Regions from separate parts of the Homo sapiens genome. Here region 2 is linked to region 1. Evidence: fine-mapped expression QTL. A gene starts in region 1. The other region holds a variant in brackets. All regions are shown on one strand. Distances are between the middles of the regions. Region 1 holds the start of DMGDH (dimethylglycine dehydrogenase). Region 2 overlaps BHMT (betaine--homocysteine S-methyltransferase).

Region 1 (16,752 bases):
TTTTCAACATGTTTGTGACAACACAGCTAGTTGTCTACCTAGTGTGCATTCTCTCCCCTGTTTTTGTGTGGGGGGACAATGCCCCTAACTTTCAAAAAATTCCCAGGTTCCTTTGCCTCTGGGAGCAGCCCTGTGACACAGTGCTGGCCAGTGAGACACATACGGAAGCTGGTGGAGGATTTCTGGAAAAGTTTTGCTTTCCTGACATAGACGCCCACTCCCTTCCCTTTTGTCTATTTTCCTCCTTCCTGGCTGGAATGCCAACATAATGCCTGGGAATACAGCAGTCATCTGACAGCCATATGAGGCAGATTTCTTAAGACATCCTTGGGTGGCTGCGGCAGCCATGGGCTGTTACCCCTGGACCTCTTGTTAGGTGAGAAAAATAATTTTTCTTCGTGTCAGCCACTGAACAGAACGGTAGTGGACACAACGCTTTGTAGTCATGCAGTGTGTTCACACGTGTCTTATCATTTGGCACTCCCAGCAACTCTGCCAGTGAGGCAGGACACAGTTTTTATTCTCAGGTGTAGATGAGGAAACTGAGGCTCAGAATGGTTGACTTGCCCAAGATCACAGAGCTAAGTAAGTAAAAAATCAGACTAGCTTCTAAATTCCTACTCTCTTTTCCTTCTATTTTACCACCTTCCTATTTAGCCCACTCATAACTTATTTAAAAGGTTCCATTCAGAGCAGTTAGCCATGGGGTGCAGTTTCCTTTTGATACAGAAAGGCCTCAGGCCTGTGCCCACAGACCCTGGTGAGGATAGGCACTCCTGTTTTTGCGCCCAAATGTTGCATTTTCCAAGACCACCCTGGCCCGCCACACCTCCATCCTGTGCCTATAAAAACCTCAAGACCCTAGCAAACACAAACACAAGCAGCTGGACGTTGAGAGGAACACACTGGCAGAAGAACACACAGACTCTGGCAGGCCATCGGTGGCAGAATGACACAGACGAAGTGGAATTCAGCCAGGGGTAATCAGAGGAGAGTCTGGCTGCTGAGCGGCCTGACTCCAGGGGAAGACCGCCTTCCCACTCCATCCCCCTTCTGGCTCCCCATCCATCTGCTGAGAGCTACTTCCACCATTCGATAAAACCTTGCACTCATTCTCCAAGCCCATGTGTGATCCAATTTTTCCAGTACACTGGCAAGAACCCCAGGATACAGAAAGCCCTCTGTCCTTTCGATAAGGCGGAGGGTCTAATTGAGCTGATTAACACAAGCTGCCAGTGGACAGCTAAGCTGAAAGAGCACACTGTAACACACACCCACTGGGGCTTCAGGAGCTGTAAACATTCACCCCTAGATGCTGCCATGGGGTACCTGCATGCTCCCCCTAGGGGTTTAAGCTGTGGGGTGCTGAAGAAGTGATCCACGCCTCCATCACACACCCTGCAAGGGGCATAAGGGAACTTTTCCCATTTCACTTGGTCTAAAGCACATCTCCCCAGGTGCCTGCAGGGTCATCCCCTCACTGCTTTCTGGTCTTTGGTCAAGTGTCACCTTTTCAGAGATGCCTTCCCTGAGCAATGCAAACCACCCACTCCTCCCAACTCCCCACAGCAATCCTGATCCCTCTTTTGTAGGCTGCATCAGTGGAAGATGCAACCTTTTATTGATAATAGGCCAGTTCATTTCAGGCCTGCCCATAGCTGGACACAAAGCAATGAATGGATCAGGGAGAAAAGCCTCAGATGCCTCTTTTAACTAGTCTTATCTGTTCTATGAAATCAACATAAACCCCCTCAGTTCCTGAATCCAAGGGAGACATCAAGCAGGGTACATAGGCAGCTTACTGGCCTACGTGTTGGGTGTAGGGTAAAACTAAGCTGTGTAAAAAAGAGGCCCCCACAACAGTGGCTTTAAATAAAAGTAGTTTCTTTTTCCTCTGTAAGAGGAAAGCCACTGTTTGTGGGGGACTCTTTTTTACAGAGTGTGCACCAAATTGCACAGTCCTTTTATCTTATTGCTTTGCCATTCCCTACGGCAGGGGTCAGCACATGACAGCCCACAGACCAAATCTGGCACATCACCTGTTTTTGTAAAAACAGTCTTAGGTAAAACCCTGCCCATTGATTTACATATTGTCTAATGGCCACTTTTCCACTACAGTAGCAGAGTTGAGTAGTTACCACTGAGACTGTATGGCCCCCAAGGCTAAAAATAATTACTATCTGACCCTTTACAGAAAGCGTTTGCCAACCCAGCCCTAGGGTACTGTCCTCCTCAGCATGGGGGAAACTGGATCAGAGTCACGTTCATACTCTGTCTCAAACGATGAGGAAACAGTGTGGCAAAGCTCATCCTAAAGTTTTTAGCTCAGACCTAGAAGTGACTCATCTCATTGACATTTACATTTCCTGCGTGAGAGTTTAGCCACATGGCTCTACCTTGCTGCAAGGGAAGCCAGGAAGTATCATCAGTGAATGTCCATGTGTCCAGCTCCAACGCTAATCCTTCGGAAGGAGGGGGAACAGATTTTGGAGAGAAACTGCTTCTGTTCTAGTGTCTGGCATCTGCTATTTCTCCTTTGCTTACTCCCCACACAAAGTGACCCACCCAGGTGTCAGGAGCGAGCTTCCTTGGATACCAAGGAACAAAGAGATCCCAAACACATTTTGGCCATATTGCTTGATATACTATTTTCTTCAATCTTTTCCCAGGAGGCTGGAAGGCCATAAAGGCAATAAAGAATAAGAGGGAAGCTAATTTGATCTTGGTTACAGGAGTCTTTGTCCTTAGCTGGGTCAATCCTGGATCTAATAAAAGCAACCAGAAATTAAAGCAGACGTGAGGATCTTCCCACAGAGCCTCCCAGGACAGTCCTGTTAACAGTATGGAACCAAACATGAGAGGTCAAATATGGCTTGAATAATCTCTTAATCTCCATCGAATGGCATGACTAGAGAGGGGGCTTATTCTAGCTTTCTCCCCATGTTCAGTTTAGCTGCAGAAGTACAAACCACTCTGACTAAGCAGAAAGGAGTTTAATATTGAGAAATGGGTACATAAAAAATTTACACTGGGCTTCCAGAAATGACCCCTAGAAAAACATGACTGAATTGGCCGGCTGGGGCTGCACCCTCTGCCACAACTAAGAGAAGCCACTATTGAACTGTTGGCTTCAGGACACAGCTGTCATATAGGGAGAAGGAGGCTGCTCCAGCGACCTCAGCTGCCCCTCACGTGACCCTGGAATGCTGCACTATGGCCACATTTGCTATGCTTCCACCTTCCCAGACTCATACTGGTGCATCTGATTGGGGATGCTAGTTCTTATCCAGATCCTAGCTGCAAAGGAGTCTGGCAAAGTGGTTAGTTTTCTTTCCTCTGCAGTGCAAGAAGGTCCATCAGAAGGGGTTTAACTAGAGGTAAATACCAGGTCACTCTACCTACAGCATCTTTTTACTGTGCACTTGGAGGGCAGGCAAATGGAGCCCAGCTGTGTGAACTATGTTAAACATAAACACTATTTTGGCAGAGAGAGCTCTCAACTCTGGTTATTTTTCCATATTTTATATCTAAAGCTGAATTTTAGCTGAATGCAGAAGAAATGTTAATATTTACTGATTCTCATCTCTTTCTTTCTCCTCCCTGCATCAAATGCAATTCACTCTTTTCAATTTGTACTTTTGAAATATAAAAAAGGCCTTAAATTTTGGACGTTTATTGAGACCTTCCACATGTCAGGTATAGTTGTGGGCAAGTGGGATAAACATCAGAATAAGACAAGGTCTCTGCCCTCCACAAGCTCAAAGTCTGGCTACTTTGGGGAAGGCCAATAAATCAACAAATAATCACAGCAGAATGTGACCAATAAATGCTACACAGGAATACAGAAGAGAAAGTCAGAGGTACAGTTACTGTGTACAAACTGTTTTCCTGAAAATCCCATACACTTCATTAGGTTCACCATGTTAAGAATCAAATTTAGGCCAGGCGCGGTGGCTCACGCCTGTAATCCCAGCACTTTGGGAGGCTGAGGCAGGCAGATCACTTGAGGTCAGGAGTTTGAGACTAGCTTGGCCAACATGGTGAAACTCCATCTCTACTAAAAATACAAAAATTAACTGGGCATGGTGGCAGGTGCCTGTAATCCCAGCTACTTGTGAGGTGGAGGCAGGAGAATAGCTTGAACCTGGGAGTTGGAAGTTACAGTGAGTTGAGATTGTGCCACTGCATTCCAGCCTGGGCAACAGAGTGAGACTCTGTCTCAAAAAAAAAAAAAAAAGAATCAAATTTACTCAAACAATTGTCGAGGGAAAACATTGGCACAGAATTCAGATGTTGTAGGTTAGCTTCTCACCTCCCACATCCAACCTATCACAGGGTTATGCCAAGTGTATTACACATTTCTCAAATGCCCCACCATCCTCACTGCATTTGATTATTGAAATGGTCTCCAGTTCTCTCCAGCCCTACTCTGAACTGTCTTCCATTGCTACCAGAGCACAGGCTCACTGACCCAGTCTCACCTGTGATTATACCCCTTTTGTGTCCTGCTTAACTTCACAGATCCTTCATTCATGCATCCCCCTGTACAGCAGTATCTGGTTACTTACTTGTCACCTCAGTTTGACTGTAAGAGGCTTGGGGGCAGGTGACATATCTTATTGGTCTATATCCCTACCACCACATATAACAACTAAAATGAGTAGACACTTAAGAAACTATGCCAAGAATTAGCAAATAAACAGGACTGTTTTGAAAATGTCAGATGTATTGCATATGCTAGAATTTTTGTCCTGAAGAAGAAAAAATGTTACTCTTTAGCAGACAATTAGGTAGGTTTTAAGAAAATTGTAGTATATATTTTGACTGTGTCTTTATGAAACCAAGTAAAGGGAGGACATTTTCATTTGTTATCTGGATGTTTGTCCACCATTTTAAATTTGCCATTTTTCTTTTCTTTTCTTTCTTTTTTTTTTTGAGACAGAGTTTCACTCTTGTCGCCCAGGCTGGAGTGCAGTAGCGCGATCTCAGCTCACTGCAACCTCCACCTCCAGGGTTCAAGCAATTCTCCTGCCTCAGCCTCGCAAGTAGCTGGGATTATAGGTGCATGCCACCATGCCCAGCTAATTTTGTATTTTTTAGTAGAGACAGGGTTTCACCATGTTGTCCAGTGTGGTCTCGAACTCCTGACCTTAGATGATCTGCCTGCCTCGGCCTCCCAAAGTGCTAGGATTACAGGTGTGAGCCACTGTGCCCGGCCAATTTGCCATTTTTCTACATAGCCATTAGCAAAATAACTAAGTTATCAAGATTTGAGATCAGAGCATCTTTTAGCCCTTCCTTCACTGCTATTCTAACTACCTCAATTAATTACTATACCAGTATGATCCCTTCTTTAGTTTTTTTTTTTTTTTTTTTTTTTACTTTTAAGTTCAGGGGTACATGTGCAGGATGTGCAGGTTTGTTACACAGGTAAATGTGCATCATTGGAGGTTTGCTATATGGGTTATTTCCTCACCCAGGTATTAAGCCTAGTATCCATTAGTTATTTTTCCTGATCCTCTCCCTCCTTCCACCCTCCACCCTTCGATAGGCCCCAGTGTGTGTTGTTCCTCACCATTATACTAGTACGATCTAAAGTCAACTGTAAAATTATAAAGACAGGAACATGTAAAATAAGGAACCCTGTAAATTAATTTTGCAGTACATTTATATTTTCATTCCCTCCTCCCCATCAGTTTGGCAGTGAACCTGCCTTGCATCTGACAGCGAGCTCTAGGGTGCATTTATGCCCCCTTTTTGCAGATATCACTACGTAAGACCTCTGGGTTTAAGATCTGGCTTCAAGACATCTCTATTCATACTCAGTGGGGATCAACTTCACTGTGTAGTAGGAGGTGATCAGAAAAACCCAGTCTGTCTAAAATAACTTCCCCTTTTCCTAGATTTGCCAGCAGAACTGCTCTTTTGGATTTAAGACCTAATTGGAGGTCTTGTCTGTGGCAATTAAATGAATTCTTAAAATGTACCTGCTAGCTGAGGAGAGAGGTGAGATTAGTTCCTTCCCATTAACACCTTAACTCCCAGGTACACATTCACATGGATTAGTGTGTGATAATCTTGGTGTTGTAACAGTAGAGGCCCCAAAGACACTGAACAAAAACAGGGCATTTTAAAAACGTTTAAAAATATGAACTGTAAAGATGAACATAGCATTAGAGAAAGTTGAGAGAAAAAAGCACAATGTTCTTTGATTATTTTTATTAACTGTATTCTTTCAATGCTCACATTTTGCTTTTATAACCTGAAAAAATATCCTAAAACATGCTTTTTAAACCAATATTCCACATCTTGTGTAACTATTACCATTATTGTGTCCTTCCTTACAGTGTGTATATAAATATTTGTATATGGTTGGGATCAGTTTGTGATATATTTCCTTTTGCAACTTAACATTGCCAAGGCACTTAGCTGGTTCTCATACTAAGTTATTTAACTGTCTAATAACTTAAGTAGATGAACCTTAATTTATTTAGAATCCCGTATTGCAGAGTATCTTGGTCGTTTCTAACTTTTTAGTATAAATAGCTCGGTGGTGCACATTTCCACGCATAAACTGCCCCTCCTCCCTTCCTCCCATTCTGAATGACAGGGCTGGAGCGGGTGGGGGTCTCTGAAGGGTCCTGGGGATGTCTTTCGTCCAAGCTCATGCCCTTCCTAATTTTGCTTAGTCACTCCTTCATCCCACCCCCACACATACTCGACGTAGAAATGGCTGGGCATAAAGCCAACATCTGGTGACCAGACCAGGAAAGGGGCCAGGAGCTGGGGACCACCGGGTGAGAGGAGGTTGAGGGGTGCTAGCGAATCCCACCTACCCTCCACCCTGCACCGCAGCTCTGGGGGCGTCCTTGCCCAGGACTAGTTTCAGACCAGCCGGCGACTCGCAAGGCCAGGCTGCTTGGCCAGGCTGCTGACTTTTCCAAAACGCGAGGGGACAGTCCGAAGAGTTCCCGGACGGATTAGCCCAAAGAGCTGCGGGCGAGGGTCGGTTGAGGGAAGAAAATGTGTGCGCGACATGCGTCCGAAAGCTAGACTTCTGATCCTCGCTCCCCGCGGGGCTGGACCCGTGACCCTGAGCTAGTCGCCTGACTCGCCGAGCCTCAGTTTCCTCACCTGTGAAATGGGGATAATTGTGAAGATGAGGAGATAACTTGAGCACAGCACTCTGTGCAGCGCCAGGCACCGAGTAAGGGCTCCATAAACGCTAACCAACCCGTGACAGGGGAAAATTGAGGCTCAGGGCCATCCCGTCCAAGTGTTTTGCCGAGGCCCCAGGGCTTGGCTAGGGATGGACGCCGGGTGTGAACGGAGTCGCTCGCAGCCCAGCGGCCAGGAGCTCCGCGAGGATCGAGGGGACGAAACTCACCTTCTTGGCCCCCGGGCGTCCAGCAGGTGCCATGGTGCCGCGGCTCTGTGGGCGCCGGGTTCCCGGGCGCGCGGCCGTCTAGGAGCCCGCCCCCAGCCCGGGGGGAGGATCCGACCCCCGCCCCGCCGGCCCCGCGGCCTCAGGCTGCCCGCTGGCCTCGGAGCAGGCGCCTGCGCCCTCGGCCTCGGCCTAGTCATGCTCCGTCCCGGCGCGCAGCTGCTGCGGGGCCTCCTGCTGCGGAGCTGCCCGCTGCAGGGCTCCCCCGGGCGCCCGCGCTCTGTCTGCGGCCGGGAAGGGTGAGTGGGGCCCCGTCCTGCTCAGAGGCGACGGGGCGGCTGCGGGGGTGGGAGCCAGAGGCTGAGGCAGGCTCAGGGGTTAGGAGCGCTCTGGCCTCCAAGAAATAGGCCTTGATATATCTTCTCGAATTATCTTTTAATTATAAAGTGAAACAGTATCCAAAGGTTCCCCGTGTAAAGTCTCTCCTGCCCCAATCCCCTTGGCCAGTGAACAATTGTTAATAGTGTCTTCTGAATCTAACCAGAGACAGTCTACGCATAGGCAAACACAGGTCAGTATAGGTTTTCCTTTGGCTTTTTGACATCTTGCTTTTTACAATTATCAATATATCTTGGAGATTGTTCCATATCAGCACACACTGACTTGCCTTGTTCCTTTTAATGGCTGCATAGTTTTCCATCCTGTCAATATTCTACACTATCGTTAGTCTATTCATTAACATTTAAATGGTTTTTGGTTGTTTATTACTGCAAATAACGTGCATGTGAAAATTCTTAGGCATCTATCTTTGAGTACATATGGGAGTCGGTAGCAACAGTTTTTAAAGGTGAACTTGTTAGGGAAAAGGTTACGTGCATCTGAAAGATTGAAAGACAGCAACACATTCTCCAAGTGGGTGGCAAGAGTTTGCATGCGGCACACCAGTGTGTGTCTGTTTCCCACATCTTCCCTGGTTCCCAGAATAGCCCATTTTGTTATCTTTGCTAAATCTGATAGGTAAAAATGGCATGTCCTTGTTTTGATTGGTCTGTATTTAAATATGAGCAATGCTGAACATCTTTCGACTTCTTATATTTGTAGATTATTCCTGGTTGCCAGGAAAGGCTTGTTTATCAGCATCACTCAACATTATTATGAGTTGATTCGAATTTTATTTTATGTCCTATGACCTGAAATTCTGGAATCAGAAGACCTGCTTTTGAGTTCCATCTATCCATTCAACAAATATTTACTGGGTGTTGTGATGTGCTAGGTTTGTCTCCAGTACTGGGAATGCAGTAGCCACCAACTCACAGTTCCTGCGCCATCTGTTACACAGAATGTGACCTTACACTTCTGAGGTTCAGTTTCCTCATCTATAAAATGAGGATACTAATTTTGCTCTATATAACTCACAGGATTGCTGTGAATATTAAATAAGAGAATGCATGTGAAAGTGCTTTGTAAATTGTAAAGCAATGCAAAAATATTTATAATAATGATGTTTTTAATCCAGTGCAAAATAAAATGGAAATTTAACAAACAAACTGATTAGATAAATAAGATACAAATTTCAAGACTATCCAAAAAATTCATATTTTGGCTGAGTGTGGTGGCTCATGCCTGTAATCTCAGCACTTTGGGAAGCTGAGGTGGGCAGATTACTTGAGGCCAGGAGTTTGAGACCAGCCTGATCAACATGGTGAAACTCTGTCTCTAATAAAAATGCAAAAATTAACTGGGTGTCATGGTGTGCACCTGTAGTCCAAGCTGCTTGGGAGGCTGAGGCGGGAGAATCGCTTGAACCTGGGAGGCGGAGACTGCAGTGAGAACCGAGATTGCACCACTGCACTCCAGCCTGGGCGACAGGGATTCCATCTCACAAACAAAAACAAAAACACCCAAAAGTTGAGTTATTTCAATTGCATATTCTTTATATACCCAATTTCAAACTATCAAAAAATGTTTTATTTTGGAAAGCAGTTGAACAAGCATACAGTTTGTGCTTATCATTTCTAATACAGAAGATAACTGACCTGGGTTTTTTGCATGGCTCCTAAGTTTTATTTCAAATACTCTTATAAACATCCTCGACTACATTCAGAAGGATTTTAAGATAGTTATCCACATAATCAAAAACACTATACCTAGTCTGAAACCTATTATGGCATGCTGGGCCGAGGAAATACTATATATTTGATAATGCTTTATCATATGTTGCCAAACAGAACCTTCACAGCTCCGTTTTGCAAATGAGAAAACTTTGAGACCCTTGTGTAAATTTCTCTAAAATAGCTGTTCAGTTGGATTGGGGACTCAAACCCAGGTTTCCTGATCTTAAGTTCTCTTTTGTTGTTGTTGTTTCAACTGACCACTGTCCTGAAAGAAATAATTCTTTCTTTTGAACACACAAAAAAGAACCTTTAAGATTATTATTTTTGTCACCACTATAATGGTTTCAACTAAAGTACAAGATATGCCCAGTCTGTTTAAAAATGGATTTCCGTCCAAAGTAGTTGGGTCATATGTACATTATTTTTTTCTCACACAGCATACAAAGAGACATTAATAGTCATCTAAAAACCGGTGAAACAAAACTGCTGAAACATGTTGTGGCACCAGGAAATAAGGACATGCTCTAAGAATTATGTAGCCATGTCAAAAGCATACAGGAGTCAACTGAAAGAACCTCCTGCTGGCCAAATCTAGGACAATTTGGTATTCAAATAAATGATGACTAGTAATGGATTAGAAACCACTGAAAACAATAAATATCCATAAATTCATGTTAATATAAACAACCAACAAACAAGGGTGAAAGAAAATTACTTCCTTACAGTAGAATGCCAACTATTAAATATAATAGGAATGATGGGGTTAGGAAATAATCAATAGATGTTAAAGCCACTCAGTAAAAGTTTGATAAGGACCAGGATATTTACATGGTCTCAAAGTAACACTTCACATTATTACTTATACAAAGGAAAAAATGGTAGCTTTACTAGACAAATCAGACAGACACCACCTTAAGCAAGTCATCAGACAGAAACAACACCAATATCAGGACAAACCAACATCATACGCTTCTTAATCATATACACTGGGAAGGAGTCAACATCAGTTTCATGATGTTTTTGCCAAAAATGCATAACATAAGTCTCATCATGAGGAAACACCAGACAAACTCACAGTAAGAACTGTTCTATAAAATAACTGGCTAGTACTGGCCGGGCGTGGTGGCTCACACCTGTAATCACAGCACTTTGGGAGGCTGAGGCAGGCGGATCACGAGGTCAGGAGATCAAGACCATCCCGGTTAGCATGGAGAAACCCCGTCTCTACTAAAAATACAAAAAAAAAAAAAAATTAGCCGGGCGTGGTGGTGGGCGCCTGCAGTCCCAGCTACTTGGGAGGCTGAGGCAGGAGAATGGCATGAACCTGGGAGGTGGAGCTTGCAGTGAGCCGAGATCGTGCCACTGCACTCCAGCCTGGGCAACAGAGCAAGACTCCATCTAAAAAAAAAATAAAATAGAATAACTGGCTAGTACTCTTCGAAAATGTGAAGGTCATAAAACACAAAGGAAGTATTAGGAACTGTTCCAAATTAAAGGGGATTAAAGAGACAGAATCCTGGATTTGATCTCTGACTGGAAAAAAGTAGCTATAAATTGATTGGAATAATTGATTAAATTTAAATATGGACTATAGATAATAGTATATCAATGTTAAATTTCTTGACTTTGAAAACTGTACTGTTGTTATGTAAGAGAATGTCCTTTTTCTTACCAAACTAGCAAAAGAATATTTAGAAGTAACTGGGTATGATACCTACAATTTACTCTAAAATGTGTATACACATAGAATATACATATTATAATATACATATATGTATAGTCATGTGCCTTATAATGATGTTTCGGTCAATGATGGACCACATATACAATGGTGGTCCCGTAAGATTATAATGGAGCTGAAAAATTCCTATCACCCAGTGATGTCATAGCTGTCATAATGTCATATGCAACACATTGCTCACGTGTTTGTAGTGATGCTGGTTAAACAAACCTACTGTGCTGCCGGTCACATAAAGCTATAGCACATGCAATTACATACAGTACATAATGCTTGACAATGATAATAAATCACTGTGCTACTGGTTTATGTATTTACTACACTATACTTTAAATCATCATTTTAGAGTATACTCCTACTTATAAAATAAAAAGTTAACAGTAAAATTGGCTCAGACAGGTCCTTCAGGAGGTATTCCTGAAGAAGGCATTGTTATCATAAGACATGACAGCTCTGGCCGGGCATGGTGGCTCATGCCTGTAATCCCAGCACTCTGGGAGGCCAAGGCAGGTAGATCACTTGAGGTCAGGAGTTTAAGACCAGCCTGGCCAACATGGTGAAACCCCGTCTCCACTAAAAATACAAAAATTAGCTGGGCGTGGTGGTACGTGTCTGTAATCCCAGCTACTCGGGAGGCTAAGGCACAAGAATCGCTTCAACCTTGGGGGTGGAATTTGCAAAGATGGCGCCACTGCACTCCAGCCTGGGTGACAGAGTGAGACGCTGTCTCAAAAAAAAAAAAAAAAAGGAAAAGAAAAGAAAAAGAGATGACAGCTGTGTATGTGTTATTGCCCCTGAAGACCTTCCAGTGGGACAAGATTTGGAGGTGTGAAGACAGTGATATTGATGATCCTGACCCTGTGTATGCCTAGGCTAATGTGTGTGTTTGTGTCTTAGTTTTTAATAAAAAAGTTTGAGGCCAGGCACAGTGGCTCATGCCTGTAATCCCAGCACTCTGGGAGGCCAAGGCTGGAGGATCACTTGAGGTCAGGAGTTCAAGACCAGCCTGGCCAACATGGTGAAACCTCATCTCTACCAAAAACACAAAAATTAGCTGGGTGTGGTGGTGCACACCTGTAATCCCAGCTACATGGGAGGCTGAGGCAGGAGAATTGCTTGAACCCAGTAGGTGGAGGTTGCAGTGAGCCAAGATCAAGCCACTGTACTCTAGGCTGGGCAAAAGAGTAATACTCTGTCTTGGAAAAAAAAAAGTTTGAAAAGTTAAAAAAATATATATATTTTGTAATAGAAAAAAGGTTCCAGAATAAGGATATAAAGAAATAAAATATTTCTATATAGCTGTAGAATGTGTTTGCATTTAAACTGTTATTACAAAAATCAAAAAAATTTAAAAGTTTATAAAATAATGAAGTTACAGTAAGCTGTTAATTTATTATTGAAAAAAGAAAAATACATTTAAAAATAAACTTAGAGTAGCCTAAATGTACAGTGTTGATAAAGTCTACAGTAGTGTACAGTAATGTCCTAGGCCTTCACATTCACTCACCTCTCACTCAGACTCATCTAGAGCAACTTCCAGTCCTACAAGCTTGATTCATGGTAAAGTACCCTAGACAGCTGTACAATTTTAAATCTTTTTTTTTTTTTCCTTTTGAGACAGGGCCTCACTCTGTCTGCTAGGTCTGAGTGGAGTGGCGCACTCATGGTTCACTGCAGCTTCAACCTCCTAGGCTCAAGCAGTCCTCTTACCTCAGCCTCCCAAGTAGCTGGGACTATAGGCATGTGCCACCAAGCCTGGATAATTTTTGTATTTTTTATAGAGACGGGGCTTCGTCATGTTGCCCAGGGTTGTCTTGAACTCCTGGGCTCAAGCAATCTTCCCATCTCGGCCTTCCAAAGTGCTGGGATTACAGGTGTGCATCACCAAACCTGACCTGTTCTCTAGATTCTTTGAAAAAAAGAAGCTACTTGTTCATTTCTTTGGCTATAGTAGCTACAATGGACCAGAATCATTATATGGAATGGGGCTCAAACACCCCTCCCCCAACCAGGTTGCCTAAATCACAGTTTAGATGCTCCAAATTATTAAATCAGTATCATGCAAATCTCAGTCAGTGGGTGTTAAGTACTAGAGAAACGGGTAAGGGGAAGTGCTTTAGGCCAGAACTATAGCTACCATTGCCGATTGAAGTTCCCATTTTAACTTTCCCTCTTCCAGAGAGGAAAAACCACCCTTATCTGCAGAAACACAATGGAAAGACAGAGCAGAAACAGTGATAATTGGAGGTGGCTGTGTTGGTGTGAGTCTGGCTTATCACCTGGCCAAAGCAGGGATGAAAGATGTGGTCCTGCTGGAGAAATCAGAGCTCACGGCTGGATCTACCTGGCACGCAGTAAGAAAAGCACCCCAAACTGTCATAAGCGTGGAATTGTGCATGAGTAAAGTCCATTTCCTTCCCGTTCACAACTCCCAACTGTGAGCTCTTTAGAGTGCGTTCCCCTTCAATAGCGTTGGAAGTGCAGTTGTAGTTTAACTGGTGTACTTCCAGATGACAACCAATATTTATGATGTCTTTATCTTGAACAGATGGCTTCTGGATTCGAATCCTGGCTTTGCAATTTTCTACCCTTGTGTGACTTTTGGCAAGTTACATAAGTTTCCATTTTCTGATGTCTTAATAGGAATATTAATAGTACTTACCTAATAGGATTGTGATGAAGATTGAGTTAACATGTGCAAAATTATTAAACGCAAGGTATTGGATAATAAATGTCAGCTTTATATGGAAGGATACTGTCTGGGTGAGCCTGGATATGGGCCCAAGATCTTTACCTATACTCCCCTCACCTGCATTTGGTGGTCCTTTTATTTACTTATGGTTTTATTTATTTTTATTTTTTATTTTTTATTTTTTTTGAAATGGAGTCTCGCTGTTACCAGGCTGGAGTGCAATGGCGCGATCTCGGCTCACTGCAACTTCCGCCTCCCAGGTTCAAGCGATTCTCTTGCCTCAGCCTTCCGAGTAGCTGTGACTACAGGTGCACACCACCACACCCAGCTAATTTTTGTATTTTTAGTAGAGACGGGGTTTCACCGTGTTGGTCAGGCTGGTCTCTATCTCTTGACCTCATGATCCGCCTGCCTTGGCCTCCCAAAGTGCTGAGATTACAGGAGTGAACCACTGCGCCTGGCCTTATGGTTTTAATTTTATGCTGTGAGATGACAGTTTGGCCCCCTGAGGACTTGAATATGAGGACTGCAAAAGTGTAGCACAGCTTTTGTGTTACATGAGACACAGGCCAAGTCAGTCTTGCATTCTTCATGGTATGCATAATTGTTCCAGGGCTGCGCCATAATTGACTAGGCTTACCTGGAAAGCTGCCCAGGTAGATGAAGGGATTGACACTGCTGTCATATTGCCAAACCAGGGATTTCTGACATCATTTAGGGATGGGAGAGGAAGTTTTTAGGACTGCTGGTGCAGTTTTCTTTTGGGCAGCGTTAGCCCCTGCTCATCATCCCATTTCATCATTAGCCTTCCTTGGCTGAGAAGAGGGAACCTCACTTTGAGGGGCTTTTTGACATCTAGTATGTGCTCAAAGTATAGGGTGGAGAGTCTAGCATGAAAAGGATTGCCTGCTTCCAGCTGAATCTGGGGGAGAGTGCTGCCCAGACATAAAAGCCCAAAGACCTTGCCCTTGTGGAACTCACATTCTGGTGGGGCAGACAGAAAACACCTATCAATGCTAGAGAGTAATCACCATGAAGAAAAGTAAAGTACAGTCAAGGATGCAAAATGATGGAGGAGGAGAAGAAGGAGGTGCTAGGGAGGATGTTTCAAAGAGGCGACCTGCCAACAGAGACCAGGGAGCAGTGAGCCAGGGGGCCATGAGGCTATTCTGGAAAGATCATTTAGGCAGGGAAATGTAGGCAAGTGGAAATACCCTTCGAGGGAGGGCTTACACCCTCTCACCACTTCTGAATTGTTACTGAGGGCATACGCTTTAATGTTTGAATTACTTATTTGCTCACTTATATACTGATTTAATGTGACCTGCATTGGATTTTATTACTATTATTATTATCATTATTTTTTGAGACAGGGTCTTTCTCTGTTGCCCAGGCTGGAGTGCAGTGGTGCAATCATAGCTCACTATAAGCACAAACTCCTGGGCTCAAGCAATCCTCCCAGTTAGCTAGGATTATACAGGTGTGCGCTAACATGCCCAGCTATTTTCTTAATTTTTTTAGAAATGGGGGTCTCACTATGTTGCCCGGGCTGGTCTTGAACTCCTGGCCTCAAATGATCCTCCAGCCTCAACCTCCCAAGACTTTAGAATTACAGGCATGAGCCATCGCACCTGGCCTGGCCTGCATTTTAGAAGAGGTTACGGGATTCCTTGAAATTTTATTTCTTAGATGTCCCATGAATAAAAAGCAACATACCCTTAATCTAAAAGTTAACTACGCAAAATATTTTTTTCTTAAACACAAAGATACCAAAGTGAGTGGGGAAAGGCATTATCCTGCTTTGCATACAAGGTATTAGGCTATGGTTTACAAAATAAGGATCCATGCAATGTGAGTTCAAGGTGGAATCAGGCATCAGAAGCCAGGTTATTTGGCCCCCTTGGAATAAAAGACAGTTGTCCTAGGAAGTTGATTCTAGGGTTTTTTGCAAGTCAAAGATGCCTCCCTCTGAGCAGCAGCATGAAGAAATCCAACATATTAGGTGTTTGTGTGTGTGTGTGTGTGTGTGTGTGTGTGTGTGTGTGTGTGTGTGTTTGAGACAGAGTTTCACTCTGTCACCCAGGCTGGAGTGCAGTGGCGTGATCATGACTCACTGCAGCCTCAACCTACGGGCTCAAGCAATGCTCTCACATCAGCACCTGTAGCTGGGACCACAGCTGTGCACGACCACGCCTTGCTAATTTTTAAAGTTTTTTGTAGAGATGAGGTCTCCCTACGTTGTCCAGGCTGGTCTCAAACTCCTGGGCTCAAGCAGTCCTCCCACTTAAGCCTCCCAAAGTGCTGGGATTATAGGCTTGAGCCACTAAGCCTGGCCGCATTGATTTTTTTTTTTTTTTTGAGACAGAGTCTCACTCTGTTGCCAGGCTGGAGTACAGTGGCATGATCTCAGCTCACTGCAACCTCCATCTCCTGGGTTCAAGTGATTCTCTGCCTCAGCCTCCCAAGTAGCTGGGACTACAGGTGCGCACCACCACACCCAGCTAATTTTTGTATTTTTAGTAGAGATGAGGTTTCACCATGTTGGCCAGGATGGTCTCAATCTCTTGACCTCGTGATCTGCCCTGCTCGGCCTCCCAAAGTGCTGGGATTACAGGCGTGAGCCACCGCGCCAGGCTGATATTAAGAATTTTTAACACCGAGATATTTGTGGAGTAGATCTGAGAATAAGGAAGGTTGCAGAGCCAGCTAACAAGAGGCAGACTATAAAAATAAAGGCAGTTTCCCTGAAGCACGATATGTGCTCCATGAGAGAAGTGTCTGGAGAGTGTGGGAATCAAATGCTTGGAGAGGAAAGCACAGCTTG
Region 2 (16,752 bases), 69 kb before region 1:
TGTTTGGAAACTTAAGCCCAGCTACTGAATTGCACAAGCAGTTGAAGAAAAGAATTAGGAATTTGTTTTGTTCTCTTTCCTAGTTCTGTTTTTCATTCTCTGCATGCCTACTCCTGCCCACAAATCCAAGGCTACAGCCTTTCTCTCTAAAACATATTTCTGCCTACACTGTACCCACTGGTTAATTTACACAGCTCTGATTCATCTTGACAGTCATATGTTTCCGACAGGTGAATACCTCTGGGCAGTCACCTGGAGACGGTTTTCTGTAATCATACAAGTTTCATGTTGTGCTGTGTACCACCCTTATTTTCCAGGCATAGATGTGACAGAATTCCCAATTCTTGTCCTATACCCTTAAGATATTTGTGCTTTTTTTCCCTGTTTCTTCTTATGTGTGTCTTGGCAATCATTTTTAGTTTTTCCAAGCTTTGCAATGTTCCTCCAGATAGTTTATTGACCCTGTGTTGTTTTTTTCTTTTAGCTTGTAATATAGTCATATGTCGCTCTAGTAATATATTAGTCAAAGATGATTTCTGTGGGGCCATATAAAGTATATAATAAATGGAGAAACCTGCAGATAAAAATGTGGAAGTTACAGGAGGAAATCTGTTAACCAAAAAGGAATAAGCTTGGGCTGGCTAAATTTACATAAGTGAAGGGTATCTTTCAGCTTCCCTTTCTTTGTCTTGCTTCTTTATTCCTTTCTACCTGCAGCATTACTTAGCTTCTCAGAAGCTCAGCATTCCCAATTTGTCCCAATTTCTGATCAGGAAGAAAAGAAACTCCTGGAAAACCACCTCTGAGGTGGCTGCCATACTTACCATCTCTCTGCCTGTCTTTTAAGCCTGACTCCCTCCTTCATGGGGTGGCTACCGGGTAGCCATTTTGACACTAGATAACCCAGCCCTGGCCATGGTGGATTGTACTAGGAGTGAACATCTGACCCAAAGTGACAATCAGATTCTTTCTCCACAAATCCTGATTCCATTTTAAACTTCAAGTTCATGTTTGATTTAAAGTTCTCCCTTTTCCTTCAGTACATACCAGGTTTGTAGCCTCGGTGACTGTGTGTGATTTTGTGTTTGTATGTGTGAGTGAGAGAGGGGTAGGGTGTGTGCTGTTCTCTCACAAGAGCCCACCCTTTTCCATCGTGTACCCTTCTAGCATGGGGAGAGGGAGGAGGGAAAAGGAAAAGATACCTCCTGAGGTGGAATTGCAGTCAGCATTGCTGTGGGGCTCATTGTCTCTGAGAGACAAGGATGGAAGCCCTAAAGGGAATCAAACCCAAAGAGTACCAGAGGTAGACCTTTGAGAGACTTAGATAGGTTGCAAACCAGAGGTAGACCTTTGAGAGACTTAGATAGGTTGCAAACCAGAGGTAGACCTTTGAGAGACTACCTCTGGTACTCTTTGGGTTTGATTCCCTTTAGGGCTTTAGGGCTTCCAGCTGGTGGAACCACCTTCTTCTAAGGCCAGAGCCTCTTTGCCTCATGCCGTGATGGCTTTGACAAGGCCATGGCCTCCAATCTCACATACTTTCCAGGATTCCAACTATGGGGCTTCTGGGGAGGAAGCAGCCTCGTGTTCTCTACTTTCAAGAAACTGGGAATTTGAGGGGGTGTTATCTGGCCCCTCTTTTTCTGATCATACCATTCCACTTTTGGCCTCAATGTTCCTTCTCCTGCTGGTAGCTCGAGGTAGATAGGCAAGAACAGTGTTCACAGGTCATGCAAGCAGGGACCAGGGGAAAGGCTTCCCTCTTCCCTGAAACCTGTAACCTTGGTTTGGTTCCGTTGAGTTCCTCTCCCTTAGTTTTGAAGAAGAGGCCCAATCCAGGGACTGGGGTCTCTTATCAAACCTTATCTTTGCCCCCAAAGGGGAAAGTTCTCCTTTAGACATTTTCATAATATTACCTGGCAAACCAGTCTAGTCTCTCCTGGAAGTACAGGAGTCTCTAGTTAGCAACTGGGCCCTCTTTATTTTAGCTCTGAGAATTTCATAATTTTTTCTCAATGCAGAACTAACTGCACTATTCTGGTAACAATAGGGGTAGGACTAGCTCTCAATAAGGAGCTAGATGTCAATGTGTGTTGCAAAGGAATGATCTTGAATTGGTGGTATTCTTCAAATCCCACTATGTTAGTGCCTTATGTAAGACTCATTCTCATGAGAAAGCTAATGGTTTGGTGATTTTCCTCCATCAGAATTCAGCAGCTTCCTTATAGGAATAGAGAAAGTATGCAGCAGGATTGCTCCAAGGCTGAGGGGCTTTTGGGGAGTATGTGGCAGAGAAGAAAAGAATGAGGAAGTGAAGGTGCACTGGAAATTGGTTAAAGTGATGAACCATGGAATCTAGGTTGCAGGGCACTGAGTGGTTCTCCACCGTGACTGCATGTTGGAATCAACTGGGGGGAGCCTTAAAAGCCCTGCTGATTGAGCCCTTCCCCCAGAGCATCTGACGTAATTGATTAAGCCAGCTTAGTCATCCTGAGTCATGAAAGCTCCCCAGGTGATTCTAATATTTAGCTAAGGTTGCAAACCAAAGCAGTACATCAGGAAAAGAAGTGAAGTTAGATTGGGGCTGATAGATTGAAAAAAGAATGAAAGGCGAAGGGATTGGGGATCCCGGATGTAGTAGGACTCATTGAGGCCTGGATTCAGGAGGGAGGCTGCCTCTGAGAGTGGGATTTCAGGGTGGAAGGTCATTATGAATTTCAGGTGTGGCTTAGCAGGGAGTGGGGGCAGTTGAGGTGAGCTGGGAGGGAGACAAAGTGGCTGCTAAGACAGCTTCAGACTGGGTCACCTTCGTGGGTGTTTGGAGTTCTCTGGGATTGATGGCTGGGGTTGATAGAATTCGTAAGGAGGTGTTCAAGCTTTTGCTGACTGTGGTGGAGAGACATGGAGGCAGAAGGTTGAAAGAACAAGGACAGGAAGAAGGTGGGCTATTGTTAAGAGATGATCCTCAGAGAAGAGGCTTTTGATGGGGTGGTGCAGGGGGTGGAAGAGGAATGGTTGGAAGTTGCAGTGGGAGCATGGAAGAGCTGCAGCCAACTCCTTTGCCTGTGGGGAGTTTTGGAGAAGGTAAGAAAATGAGCAGTCTGCCATAAAACAGAGCCATAACAGAAGTGAGGTTCTGGAAAATAGAGGTACTCTTTAATATTATTATTTTCTTTTATTATTATTTTGAGACAAGGTCTTGCTCAGTCACCCAAGCTGGAGTACAGTGGCTCAATCTTGGCTCACTGTGACTTCTGCCTCCCAGGCTTAAGCAGTCCTCCCACCTCAGCCTCCTGAGTAGCCGGGACTACAGGCACATACCACCACACCCAACAATTTCAAATTTTTAAATTTTTTTTTGGTAAAGACAGTGTTTCACCATGTTTCCCAGGCTGGTCTTGAACTGCTGGACTCAAGTGATCCACCCATCTTGGCCTCCCAGAATGCTGGGATTACAGGCATGAGCTGCTGTGCCTGGCTATTATTTTAAATTGAGTCATAATTGTACATATTTATGGTGTACAGTGTGATATTTTGATACATATATGCAATGCATAATGATCAAATCAGGTAATTAATATACCCATCACCTCAAACATTTATTATTTCTTTGTGTTGGGAATATTCAAAATCTGCCCTTTTAGCTATGTGAAAATATGTAATAAATTGTTTCTTCAATATTACTGAGGTTTGGTCTCCAGATGGTTGAGGATTTCTGTGTAAACATTTTTCAGAATAGAGTGAATAGATTATTTGGGATCCATGTCTTAGCCTATGGTGTTCAGGGGTCACAAACTGGCTGAATTCAGGCTCTGGTGTGTTTAGCTCACACCAGAGTTTGGGGAAAAAATAAATTTGAGTATTTTTTATGCAGAGCCTGCTGTTTCCGGTTTATGCAGCTCCACCTTTGGGTTGAAAACTGAGCTGTTTCATACATCTATATTACTTACTTGCCTCCAAGACTTTTGTTTCCTTAATATTTTATTATGAAAAATTTCAAGATACAAAAGTTGAGAGAATGGTATAATGAATCACCATATCCCATTACCCAGACCTGAAGACTTCTGATGTTGGGACTCCTGGGGAGATAAAAAACAGTAGTGCATTCTGGAATCTTCACAGAAAGGGCAAGATATTTTAAAAAGGAAAGAAAGAAAAAAGAGCAGTGCAGGCCGGGCACGATTGTTCACGCCTATAATCCCAGCACTTTGAGAGGCTGAGGTGGGTGGATCATCTGAGGTCAGAAGTTCAAGACCAGCCTGGTCAACATAGTGAAACCCCATCTCTACTAAAAATACAAAAAATTAGCTGGGCATGGTGGCGGGTGCCTGTAACCCCAACTATGTGGGAGGCTGAGGCAGGAGAATCACTTGAACCCGGGAGGCGGAGGTTGCAGTGAGCTGAGATCACGCCACTGCACTCCAGCCTGGGCAAGAAGAGCGAAACTCTGTCCAAAAAAAAAAAAAGGCAGTGCAAACCATTTTTTTGCAGAAGCTTTTCCCCTAATGTGGAACGTGGAATGCCTTGCTCTCACACCCACCTTGACTTTCTAGTCACTTTTTTTTTTTTCCTTTTTCTGAGACGGAGTTTTGCTTTGGTTGCCCAGGCTGGAGTGCGGTGGCATGATTTCGGCTCACTGCAACCTCTGCCTCCCAGGTTCAAGCGATTCTCTTGCCTCAGCCTCCCAAGCAGCTGGGATTACAGGTGCCCGCCACCACACCCAGCTAATTTTTGTATTTTTAGTAGAGATGGGGTTTCACCATGTTGGCCAGGCTGATCTCAAACTCCTGACCTCCAGTGATCCACCTGCCTCAGCCTCCCAAAGTCCTGGGATTACAGGCATGAGCCACTGAGCCTGGCCACTAGTCTTTCTTTATGTCTCTATAGGAGCATTATCTTTTTATTCATTTTTCCACATAATCATTCAATAAATATTATTAAGTCCCTTGTGTGTGTCAAGCCCTCTCTTGTAGGCACTGGAGTTGGGACAATAAGTAAGAAAAACAAGGTTCCTGTCCTCTTAGGACTTATAGCACAGGGAGGAAGAGATAGAATGTATACAATAATTAAATAACCAAATAGATCATGTGAAGTGCTATGAAGAACAAAAGTACCTGGTGCGGTGGCTCATGCCTGTAATCCAGTCACTTTGGGAGGCCAGGGTGGGCAGATCACATAAGGCCAGGAGTTTGAACCAGCCTGGCTAACATGGCAAAACTCTGTCTCTACTAAAAACACAAAAAAATTTTAGCTGAGCATGGTGGTGCGTGCCTGTAATTCCAGCCACTTGGGTGGCTGAGGCATGATAATCACTTGAATTCAGGAGCCAGAGGTTGCAGTGAGCCAAGATTGTACCACTGCACTCCAGCCTGAGTGACAGAGCGAGACCCTGTCTCAAAAAGGGAACAACAACAATAACAACAAAACTAAAGCAAGGCTACTTGACAGAGTAACCAATCAAGGTTTAGGGGTTGAGGGGATCGGGGTGGATGGAGAACTTTAGGTATTCAAGAGGGCCTCCCTGAAAGGGTGACACTTGATCTGAGACATGAATAACAGGAAGGTACCACCACTTGAAGATCAGGAGGCAGAGGGAACAACCAGTGCCAAGGCTCTGAGGTAGGAATGAGCTTAGGGGGTCTGAAGAACAGAAAGAGGTGAGCAGAATGGAAGTGTTTCTCTGGGCTTCCTCAGGGCACCGCAGCCCTCACTATGCTGGTGTAAGCAGCTTTTCTCTGTGCCTTCACAGCATCATTTGTGGCATTTATGGTCTTAGTCTGTTTGGGTTGCTATAATGGAATACCTGAGACTGGGTAATTTATAAATAAAAGAGGTTTATTTGGCTCGTGATTCTGGTGGCTGGGAAGTCCAAGATCAGGCAGCTCATCTGGTGAGAGTCTCCTGCTGCTTCAACTACTGGCAGAAAGCAGAAGCAGGATGTGCAAAGAGACACATAGGAGAAGCTGGGCTCACTTATAACAACTTGCTTTCTTGGGAACTAATCCATTCCCATGAAACCGAGAACTCACTCACTCCCACCAGAAGGCATTAATCTATTTATGACAGATCTGCCTCCATGACCATATACCATCACTAGACCCTACCTCCCACGACCGCTGCACTGGCAATTAAACTTCAACATGGGTTTTGGTGGGAGCAAACCACATCCAAATCATAGTGTCTATTAGAGCACTTAAGTCCTTTAGTGAGGGCTTGTCTCCCTCACTGATCCAGGAACTGACAAGTGGCATCTTTGTACCTCTCAGCCCTTAAGTCCAGTGTCAGGCCTCATATAAGGTGCTCAAATATGTGAAGCATAAATATGTGCATGTAGGAATGAAGAGAATGGGAGTGTAGGTTCAAATTTGGAAGTAAGCCAACCACAAACATTTTCAGCTCCTAATAGTCTGATGTCTGAGAAAAAATAATGAAATGTTTCTGTAATTTTCAAGTTTTCTTCTTTCTAGCAAGGGTCTCCCAAATATGCATTCATGTTTTTTCATTCATCAAATATTTACTGAGCTCTTACTATACCCAAGGCATTATTCTAGGCACTCAGGTATGGAAGTGAACAAAGTCAAGTTCCTGCCTTTGAGGAGCTTATATTCTAATGTTGTGGGGAAACAATGAATGAATGAGTGAATGAATAAAATATGACCAAAAATGCACAGCAGGTGGTAACAATCACTATGGAGAAGAATAAGCACCCCAATGAAGATAGAGGATATAGAAGAGGGGTGTGTTGCTATTTCACATAGGGCAGTCAAGGAAAATGAGCCATTTTTTGTCCTCTGGGAATCACATGCTGAGAAGGACATAGAAGTGCAAGATTTTGCTGGAGGGGCAGTGGAAATACTAGTGAAAATTAAAGGTAGAAGGCACAGGAGTAGGCAGAGACACCCTTCAGACTGCAGTGCAGTCTGACACTTTTGAAAAGAGAGGAAGAGGAGATAGGACTGGGCAGAAGTAGAAGCTGAACTGCAATGCAGGTCAAAAAATGCCTAGGCCAATCTGGTGGTGAGTTCTGGAGAGAATATCTCCTGTCAGAGTTGC[C/T]GCTAGTCAGGCCAGAATGCCAGGGTTTTATGCCCTTGCTTTGCTCAGGCATCAGATGCAGGCTGGCCTGGGAAGGATGTGACTTTGAACAAAGGGTCTGCAGCTTTGACATTGAAGGGGATGGCAGCTGGGGGCTGCAGTCACATAACCCACAGATGGGCAGCCTGTCCTTCCTTGAAGGGACATCTGAGTGCATGACTCAAGATCTGTGACACAAGGCAACTGCAAAGTTTTGAAATGATGACTGACATGATATGACTTAGTTCTTAAAAGAATCATTCAGGACACTCTATGGAGAATAGATCTGAGGGAGACTAGGGAGGAATTAAGGGAACTTGTAGAGAAATTTATTGTGAAATATTCTAGGTGAGAGATGATGGCAGCTTAGTCCATTACTCCCTAGGAAATAAGGAGGAGGAAGTGGAACGCAGTCAAATTTGGATGCATTTTGTAGGTAGATCTGACAGGCTTTGCTGATGTATTGAATGTGAGTATAAGAGGAAGAGAAAAGTCTAGGATGACTTCAAGATTTTGGCTTGAGCAACTAGAAGAGTAGAACTTCCATTTTCAAATATGAAAGATCCTGTGGGAGAGACAAGTTTAAGTGGGCAAGGGAAGATCAGGACCTTGTTTTCAGAGTCCAACTGGGCTGCTCCTTGGGTGTGGAGAGCTCTGGGAAAATATTTTTATGGAGCACCTACATATATATATATATATATAAAATTAGATTTTAAAATATATTTTTAAAGGTATTTGATTTAAAAACATATCTAAACATTCATGGGCCTGTGTGAGGTATAGTGAGTGACATGTTCATGAGGATTTAGAATAATGGGTTGAGAAGAGGTAACTGCTTGTTGTCCAATTAGTGCACATAAAGATTCTTCATAGTATCCAGACACCATCTGTCCCTATTGAGGAACAGGGACAATCTCTTGTTCTTTATTGTCACATGTGATACTTTCATATCTCCCATTGTGAGAAAAACATAGCAATGCCATTATTACTGACAATGCCATGCTTCTTTGGAAACTGTATTGAGACAATATGGATCTTGTTTCTGTAGCTCCCCAACACCATTTGTTTAATACTGGTTATATCATTACTCCTGGTGGTACATTAAGCATCAATGGATGCTTCTGAAAACTGGCATCCATTAAATGACTCTCTGTGAGGTGGTTACTGTGCTTTGTTGATGATGACCACAACTGCAAGTCTTACCAAGAATATATGGGAACAGGCTGGGCACAGTGGCTCATGCCTGTAATCCCAGGACTTTGGGAGACAGAGGTGAGCTGATCACTTGAGCCCAGAGTTTGAGAACAGTTTGGGCAACATGGTGAATCCCCATCACTACAAAAATACAAAAATCATCCCAGCTTGGTTGTGTGCACTTGTAGTCCCAGCTACTTGGGAAGCTGAGATGGGAGGATTGCTTGAACTCATACTACTGCACTCCAGCCTGGGTGACAGAACGACTGTCTCAAACTAACATATATATCTATATCTATACCAATATATATATTCATATACATATTCATATATATTCATATACATATTCATATATATTCGTATATATACATATATTCATATATATTCATATATATTCACATATATATTCATATATATTCACATATATATTCATATATATATTCACATATAGATTCACATATATATTCACATATAGATTCACATATATATTCACATATAGATTCACATATAGATTCACATATATATTCACATATATATTCACATATATATTCTCATATATATTCACATATATATACACATATATTCATATATATATTCGTATATATATTCACATATATTCGTATATATATTCACATATATTCGTATATATATTCGTATATATATTCGTATATGTATATTCGTATATATATTCGTATGTATATTCATATATATTCGTATGTATATTCATGTATATTCGTATGTATATTCATGTATATTCGTATGTATATTCATATGTATATTCGTATATATGTATATTCATATGTATATTCATATATGTATATTCATATATATTCATATATTCATATATATTCGTATATATATTCTTATATATATTCATATATATATTCATATATATTCATATATATTCATTTATATTCATATATTCATATATATTCATATATATTCACATATATTCACATATATTCATATATATTCACATATATTCATATATATTCACATATATTCGTATATATTCACATATATTCGTATATATTCGTATATATTCGTATATATTCATATATATATTCGTATATATTCATATATATATTCGTATATATTCATATATATATTCGTATATGTATTCGTATATATATATTCGTATATGTATTCGTATATGTATTCGTATATATATATTCGTATATGTATTCGTATATATATATTCGTATATGTATTCGTGTATATATATTCGTATATATTCGTTTATATATTCGTATATATATTCGTATATATTCATATATATATTCGTATATAATATATATATTCATATATGTATATTCATATATATATTCATATGTATATTCATATATATTCATATATATGAATATATATTCATATATATATATATATATATACATGAAGTGTCAATAATTCATTTTATGTTAGATTCTTGTTTACGCTTGAGTGCTGCAGACCATAGGTATTGCTGCAGTCAGAACCCTCACAGGTGAGAGCCAATGAAGGCCTACGTTCACTGCTCAAGGCAAGGGGCAAAGGTCCTGAACTTGTCCTGTGTCTGATGTGAGTCAGCCAAAATCAGAGTGTCAGCACCATACTGGGTAGCCCAATCTCACCAGATCTTGGGATAAAATACAGTTCCTGCCAGCAGAAGCCATCCTATCACCAGGGCTCCCTCCTGGAACCAGGACCAACATAAAGCCTTAGGCTTCTTAGGGCACTTGGTCACTCCAGGAGTGGGGTGGGTGTGAGGGACATGGTACGGGGATGTACAGGGTCACTGAACACTCAGAAGGAGACAAATGAGGACTGGGTCCCATGCTGACTGGTCCAGGCTTGGGGTTCCCTTCCTAGATGGCACAGCTGGCCCTGGCTGCTCTCAGCCACTGGAGGAGGATGTAAACAATTTTGAGGAAGGTGCCTCTGACAACCAGGATCCATGTGGGACCTGCTCCAGACCTGGGGCATCTGCCTGAATGGCCATGGGAAGTGGCTTGGGGCCTGAGGTACAGGGTCCGGGCCACGGACCGCTGGCTTGGGTCTACAGGCCAGGCTGATATCATGTGCCTGAATGCTGGGGAGTAGTCCAGGCTGGAGAGAGAAATCTGGGAGTCATCAAGCTGCTGAGAATGGCCTGATGGAAGGAAAAAAATCCTGAGGTGTCTAGCTCCCAAATTCCACTCTCCTATTCTCAAAATGTGAGAAGCCAGCTCTCTCCCTTCCTAGGTAGATGAAGGACTCTAAACCAAAAATTACTCACTTGATGATTTTTAGAATATTTAGCTTATGCAAATCTACAAAGAATTCTGAACCTTGAAAATAGAAACAGTTCATAATATGAAAAACCACAGACCCAAGTCTCCTTAGAAAACAGTACCTGTGGGGAGGAATGACATTTTCATTTTTCAGCACCAGGCTGAGTCTAGGGTAGTAACATTTTCCCTGCCCTCTGAACAGTGTTACTTGTTTTAGTCGGCTGTCTGTTTAGCCAGGGGAATAATTAATTAACAATTTCAGTCCGCTGGAAACATACCACCAAGTGGCATTCAGTAAATATTTATTGACAATGATGAGGCTATTATTTATTTATATCATCAAATCGCAAACAACTGTGGAGTTTTCCAGCAAGGCATTAGAAACTTGTTATCCTACAGTTGAGAAAATTGAAGGACAGAGAAGTGGGGTGATTTACCCAATGTTCTGCAGGGAGTTGGGGCAAAGCTAGGACTTGCACCCCAAAGTCTTGATTCTAAATGTCTTCCTTGCTTTTTCTGCTATGTGCCACTAGTGTTTTTGAGCCATAGGTGAATTCCACTAAGCTACCTCAGGTGTTTAGGACGTTAACTTTTGCAAAGAACAGTAAAATCTCATTAAGTCAGAATAATTGGAAGAATGACCAGGCTGACTTGAGAAAAAGTCTGAACTATTTAAAAAGATATTCAGCTTTTTCCTTTCAAGATCATGTAGTAAATTGGAACAAATAACCACAGAATGGGGCCAAGCAGAGGTCTTACTGAACCTGCCCAAAAGAACAAACTGGAATAATTTCTGAAGGGTACATTAACAGTTTGCATGCAAGTGATGACTGCTAAAGATAGTTCAGGCATTTAGAGAAATATCTTTTTATTAAAAATAAGTGAAATGTTTCCCTTAATACATTTCATGTAAGTATTTACATAGGAAACTTTCATAAATTTATTTATTTTTATTTTTATTTATTTATTTTTTTGAGATGGAGTTTCACTCTTGTTGCCCAAGCTAGAGTGCAGTGGTGCGATCTCGGCTCACTGCAACCTCCGCCTCCCAAGTTCAAGTGATTCTCCTGCCTCAGCCTCCCAAGTAGCTGGGATTACAGGCGCCTGCCACTACGCCCAGCTAAGTTTTGCGTTTTTAGTAGAGATGGGGTTTCACCATGTTGGCAGGCTAGTCTTGAACTCCTGACCTCAAGTGATCTGCCTGCCTTGGCCTCCCAAACTGCTGGGATTATAGGCGTGAGCCACCGTGCCCAGCCTGGAAGCTTTAATAAATTTAAATGTAAACATCTAACCATCTAACCACAAGTTAAAATGATCATGCGTTTGATTTCATGGCATATAAATTAACCTGTTTTTACTGTTTTGCTGTACATGACTTGTTTGGTATTATTCCTGTAACTCACAGCAGCATAAATGATGACATCTGTCTCTCTCATTTTCCATCATCTTAATTTTTCATCTATCCAATGCCAACAGAATGCCTCCAGCTGCTTGAAAACCGGAAGCATTTTCTGGCCATTCCTTTCTCTCACCACACTCCCACCAATTTTACCAAAGGATCCTACCCTTCCTGTTACCATTTTTGAGAATTCTTTGCATTTGCCTGCCTTTCATCATTTTCTGTTCAAACACTAAATATTCCTTCCTGAAGATGTTTAGAAATATTATACCTTGCTATCTCTAATTCTGTCGTTTAACATCCCACCAGGCATACTATTTCTGAAGCCGTTCATAAGTCCTATTTTTCTCTCTTGAAATTGACTTCTTCCTCCTTTGTTATCTAAGAGCCAGGGTCCTTGACCTGGCAGGTAACACGTGGGAGGTTCCAGACTGACTGAGTGGATGTTATTGACTATCAAGGAGGCTATTTGGGAGAACAGTCTATAAAGCCCTCAAGCCCTTCAGTGTGCTGAAGGCTGGAAAAAAAAAAACGTTTCTGGGGAAAATGGGGATCTAGTTGGAGATGCATAAAGCCTGCCTGCCTGCCTGCTCTCCTGCAGTCCCTCCCCGCCCTCCTTCCTCCCTCCCTGCCTCTCTCCTCCCTCCCTCCCTCTCTCCTTTCTTTCCTTCCCTCCCGTTCTCCCTCCCTTTTTCCCTCCCTTTCTCCCTTCCTTCCTCTTTTTTAATTCCTGACTCAAACTTGTTAAAGGCTTTTCTTGATGGGTGCGTTGTCCTGGATGTGATTCAAAGATCCACATGTCTTAAGAAAAAACTGACCAAAACTGTTAGAGCTTAGCCTGATGAAATAACTTAAGTTCAAACAAAATAAGGTTACTCATGCATTTCCTGCTGGCGACCTGCTGCCCCCATCTGGAGAAGTTGGGAACGGATGTTCTTGATTCATTCCTGCGCAGTTCTTGTTTCCTTTAGGGGTCTGCGTTGGCTTGGCTGTCTTATCCAAAGGTGGTTTGCTACAGTGTGTAGAAGTGTCAGAGTACAAACTGCAAACAGTTTATTTAGTGAGTTCATGTTTACTCTGAGTAACGCCAAAGACCTTTATTTTATTCCTGGCTGGAGGATGACTCCTTAGTTTTGTGGACCATCTGTTCTGGTACTGCCCCCCAGCTTCCCCAACCCTTCCTACAAAAGGCTAAGCTAAAGCCGTCTTTCTTGACAGCCTTGGAATAGTGAGAAGTGCTTCCTGACTTTGCATCCTGCCTTGGTAATCTTATCCTTAAAAGGATAGTTTGGACTTTTGATCTCTAAGGTCCCTCTGGTTCGGAGTCCATAAAAAATATTTACCAGTGAGAAATGTCTATTTAACATAAATCAACTCTTAGGTATTAAATGAGCTTTCTCTCTTAATGAACAAGATTTCTGGAAATAAAATGCACATGTTTGGAGGAGGGACTGAAATTTTAAAAACAATTTCAAAATATGAACTATACCACTAGGAGGCAGTGTTGACATATAATTTAATTCAAGAATGTCTTTACCATAGCTCCTTTTCAGAAAAATATTTTAAAAAACGATGGATATAAAAATGATTAAAGGTTATAATATTTTGGTGGCAACAAAACTCTGAAAAGAATATTAAAGGAACATGCATTTTACACAGTAATAGAACAGCAAGTCCAATAAAATGTCATCTGTGAGTGAAAGCTTTAAATACTGAGCTTGGTTTGAGAATATAAGAGAAATGATAGATAACAACTTTGCCAAAAAAAAAAACAAAAAACAAAAAACAAGTGGAGTTCACTCTTGTTTCCACTAGCCATATGCAGCCTCTGAAAGTTGTGCTGCTTTGGCTCTGTTTCTGTGCATTGAGGGATTAGGGGTGGATTATTAACTCTTAGTAACAAAATTCTAGCAATTTCTTTGCCTTTCCATTTATTTATTTATTTGACAGAGTCTCACTCTGTCTCCCAGGCTGGAGTGCAGTGGTGCAATCTCAGCTCACTGCAGCCTCTGCCTCCCAGGTTCAAGTGATTCTCATGCCTCAGCCTCCCGAATAGCTGGGACTACAGGTGTGTGCCACCACACCTGGCTAATTTTTGTATTTTTAGTAGAGACAGGGTTTCACCATGTTGGCCAAACTGGTCTTGAACTCCTATCCTCAAGTAATCCGTCCACCTCCCAAAGTGCTGGGATTACAGGCGTAAGCCACCACACCTGGCCTATTTTTGTTTTCTAGAATTCCCTGACTGGCTCTCCAGAAAGAGCCAGTAGGGCCTCTTTTCCTTTTAAATACTGCCACCTGCTCCTTTAAAATTCCAGCATACTTGTGAAGTAGGTTTTTCTTTTAAATAGGTGAAGAAATTGAGGTATAGAGGTTTCATGTAAGACTTAGCAAATTGTAGAACCAGGATAAGAATAAAATACAAGCAATATAGTCTCATTGCTCTTCTTTTTAATAGCTGAAAAGAATTACAATTTCAAAACAGCTCAAACAATTCAATAATGTTTAGAAAGCTGCATGACCTCTTTTCTAATACACTGAGGGTAGTCATGTTTCTTCTAATAGTCTTGTATCTTCAGGCTTGAGCTTTTGTAGGAGAGTAGATATTAAATTATCAGAGAAAAATATCATAGTTCTCAATCTAGGAAACCAGGCTAGAGTTTGGAGAATCTCTACTTTTTTCTTATTATATTTTTTAAAAGCTACCAACTAATACAAGCTCACTCTGCTCAGCCTTATGGCCCAGAGGCACTAGGTGGATCCAGTGTTGACTAGGATGGAGAGGGCTGAAATATCCATCTCTCCTCCCCTCCTCCCCATTGGTCTATGTCTTTTACTGGTAGAAAAGTGGGTCACGAAACAGAAGAACTCTGAGAGCAGGACTCTGGGTATTGGATATTTATTGATCAGGTCTCATATGACTGACCTACTTATAAGAATAAACTTAAACAGGATGGTCTCCTTAAGTGTCTTGTAGCAATATTTTTCAAACTGTGGATCCAAACCCAGTAGTGGGTCATAAAAATCCATTTGAAAAGTCTCAACTAGCATGTTTTATAAATGAAATAGAATGAAAAGGAATGGAACAGAAAATACTAGGATGGATCACACATTTAATTTCGACAGTAAGATGTGATGTGTTTTGCTGGGTCATTATATAAATTGTGTTTGTTACTAAGGGTCATGTTCAAAAGAACTTGGAAGCCCCTTTCCATAGCGCTTTATCTGTCCCTGGCTGGTTGCTGAGTCCTTTATGACAGTTCATGTCTCATCCTCTTTGCTAGCCTACCAACTTCTTCAAGTGGCATTAACATCTGAATTACTTTTCCTGTGCAGCAGTGATTTCCATAATACTTTTCACAGGGTGGGTGCTTAGTGAACCTGTTCAAGATTTACTTTGTACTTATTTTGCTCCTAAGAAAATTTCTAAAACATACTTTAAAATTATCAAGTGCTATTTGTAATTCTATTTTGTTCAGGTAATAGCAATAATATGTGTAGGATGGCATTCATGAAAGCACTGCTTTTTAACCCCCTTTTCCGTATTTGTAGGAACTGTGACCCAAACACCTAGAAATTCATCAAAAATAGCTTCTATCGAGGCTACTGTGATTTGAATTTTTGTTTTTCAAAGAGCTCTTTCAGCTGCTGCTCAGTTGTGGCTTCTTTCTGCTGCATCAGCTCGGCTGTTCCTTTGGTCACTCCCCAGCCATCTGGCTTTGACATTGAAGGGTTGTATGGCCGGCCTGAGGCTATCCGAAGATTCTCCCAGTATTCCTTCCTGGCCCTGTGTGAACAAAACACATGACACCAGACAACAGACTCCTCCCCTAGCTTTGGTCTTTATATCATGGAACCATTTAAAAATTATATAATATTTTAAATAATTTCACGCAGCACACAAAGTTGCCTATCAGACATTAAAAAGCAAAGGTGTCAATCTCAGCCACCTGTGTGGGCAGTCTGTGGTTGTTTGGCTTCACCATGATTCCTGACTACGAATTTATATGCTACTGATAAACAATCATTTGCTTACACTTATCCACACATTAATACTTAACAGGAAAAGTATGACATACCATTAACACAGTGAAAAAATCATGTGCTCAGGGTAACTAAGCAGCACAGTAGCATCACTAGAATACCCGTGTCAGCTGCTGAACAGCAACAACCATCAGCAACAGGCTTTGTCTCCATCCATGATGCTGTGTTTTGATTAAAAGGTTACTGTACACTGTATTTTACTTTTGTAGATGAGAAGAAACATCAGAAGCAGTTGAGGGACTGGGAAGCGGTCCATTCTGCTGGAAGGCTTTTTACAGTGTTTCCTCCAGAGGCATCTGCCTCATTAACAATGGTTTTTGTCATAGAAGGTGCCCTTTGATGTAAAAACTGATGTGATTTCTTGTTCTGTTATGAGTGCACATTGAGGGAGCCATCTTTGGATTCTCAGAGTGCATCCATTAAAACACACATTAATCTGGACTAAAAATTCCACCCCCTCCCCTCAATCTGTAAGTCTAAAGTTACTTTGAATTTCTTTTTTGAGACAGGGTCTTACTCTGTCACCCTGTCTGGAGTGCAGTGGTACGATCTTGGCTCACTGCAACCCCCGCCTCCCAGGTTCAAGTGATTCTTCTGCCTCAGCCTTTTGAGTAGCTGGGATTATAGGCCTATGCCACCACATAGGTACAAAATTAGTACAGCTAATTTTTGTACTTTTTGTAGAGACAGGGTTTCGCCATGTTGCCCAGGCTGGTCTCAAACTCCTGAGCTCAAGTGATTCGCCTGCCTCAGCTTCCCAAAGTGCTGGGATTACAGGTGTGAGTCACTATGCCC

Evidence for each region. PIP is the estimated chance that this variant, and not a neighbour inherited with it, causes the effect.
Region 2: its variant is fine-mapped to the expression of DMGDH in T cells (TOPMed, PIP above 0.99).

The regions. Positions count from the first base shown.
Region 1 is chr5:79,060,451-79,077,202 of GRCh38, reverse strand. It overlaps DMGDH (dimethylglycine dehydrogenase), which reads left to right and starts at 7,529. Exons shown (of 16, transcript NM_013391.3): 1 at 7,529-7,683; 2 at 13,416-13,590. The coding sequence starts at 7,583. It overlaps BHMT2 (betaine--homocysteine S-methyltransferase 2), which reads right to left and starts at 7,436. Exons shown (of 8, transcript NM_017614.5): 1 at 7,388-7,436. The coding sequence starts at 7,420.
Region 2 is chr5:79,129,881-79,146,632 of GRCh38, reverse strand. It overlaps BHMT (betaine--homocysteine S-methyltransferase), which reads right to left. Exons shown (of 8, transcript NM_001713.3): 8 at 14,345-15,700. The coding sequence ends at 15,517. Among named protein-coding and RNA genes, the nearest start is that of BHMT, 26 kb to the right of the region's middle. The variant C/T (reference allele first, on the strand shown) is at 7,054.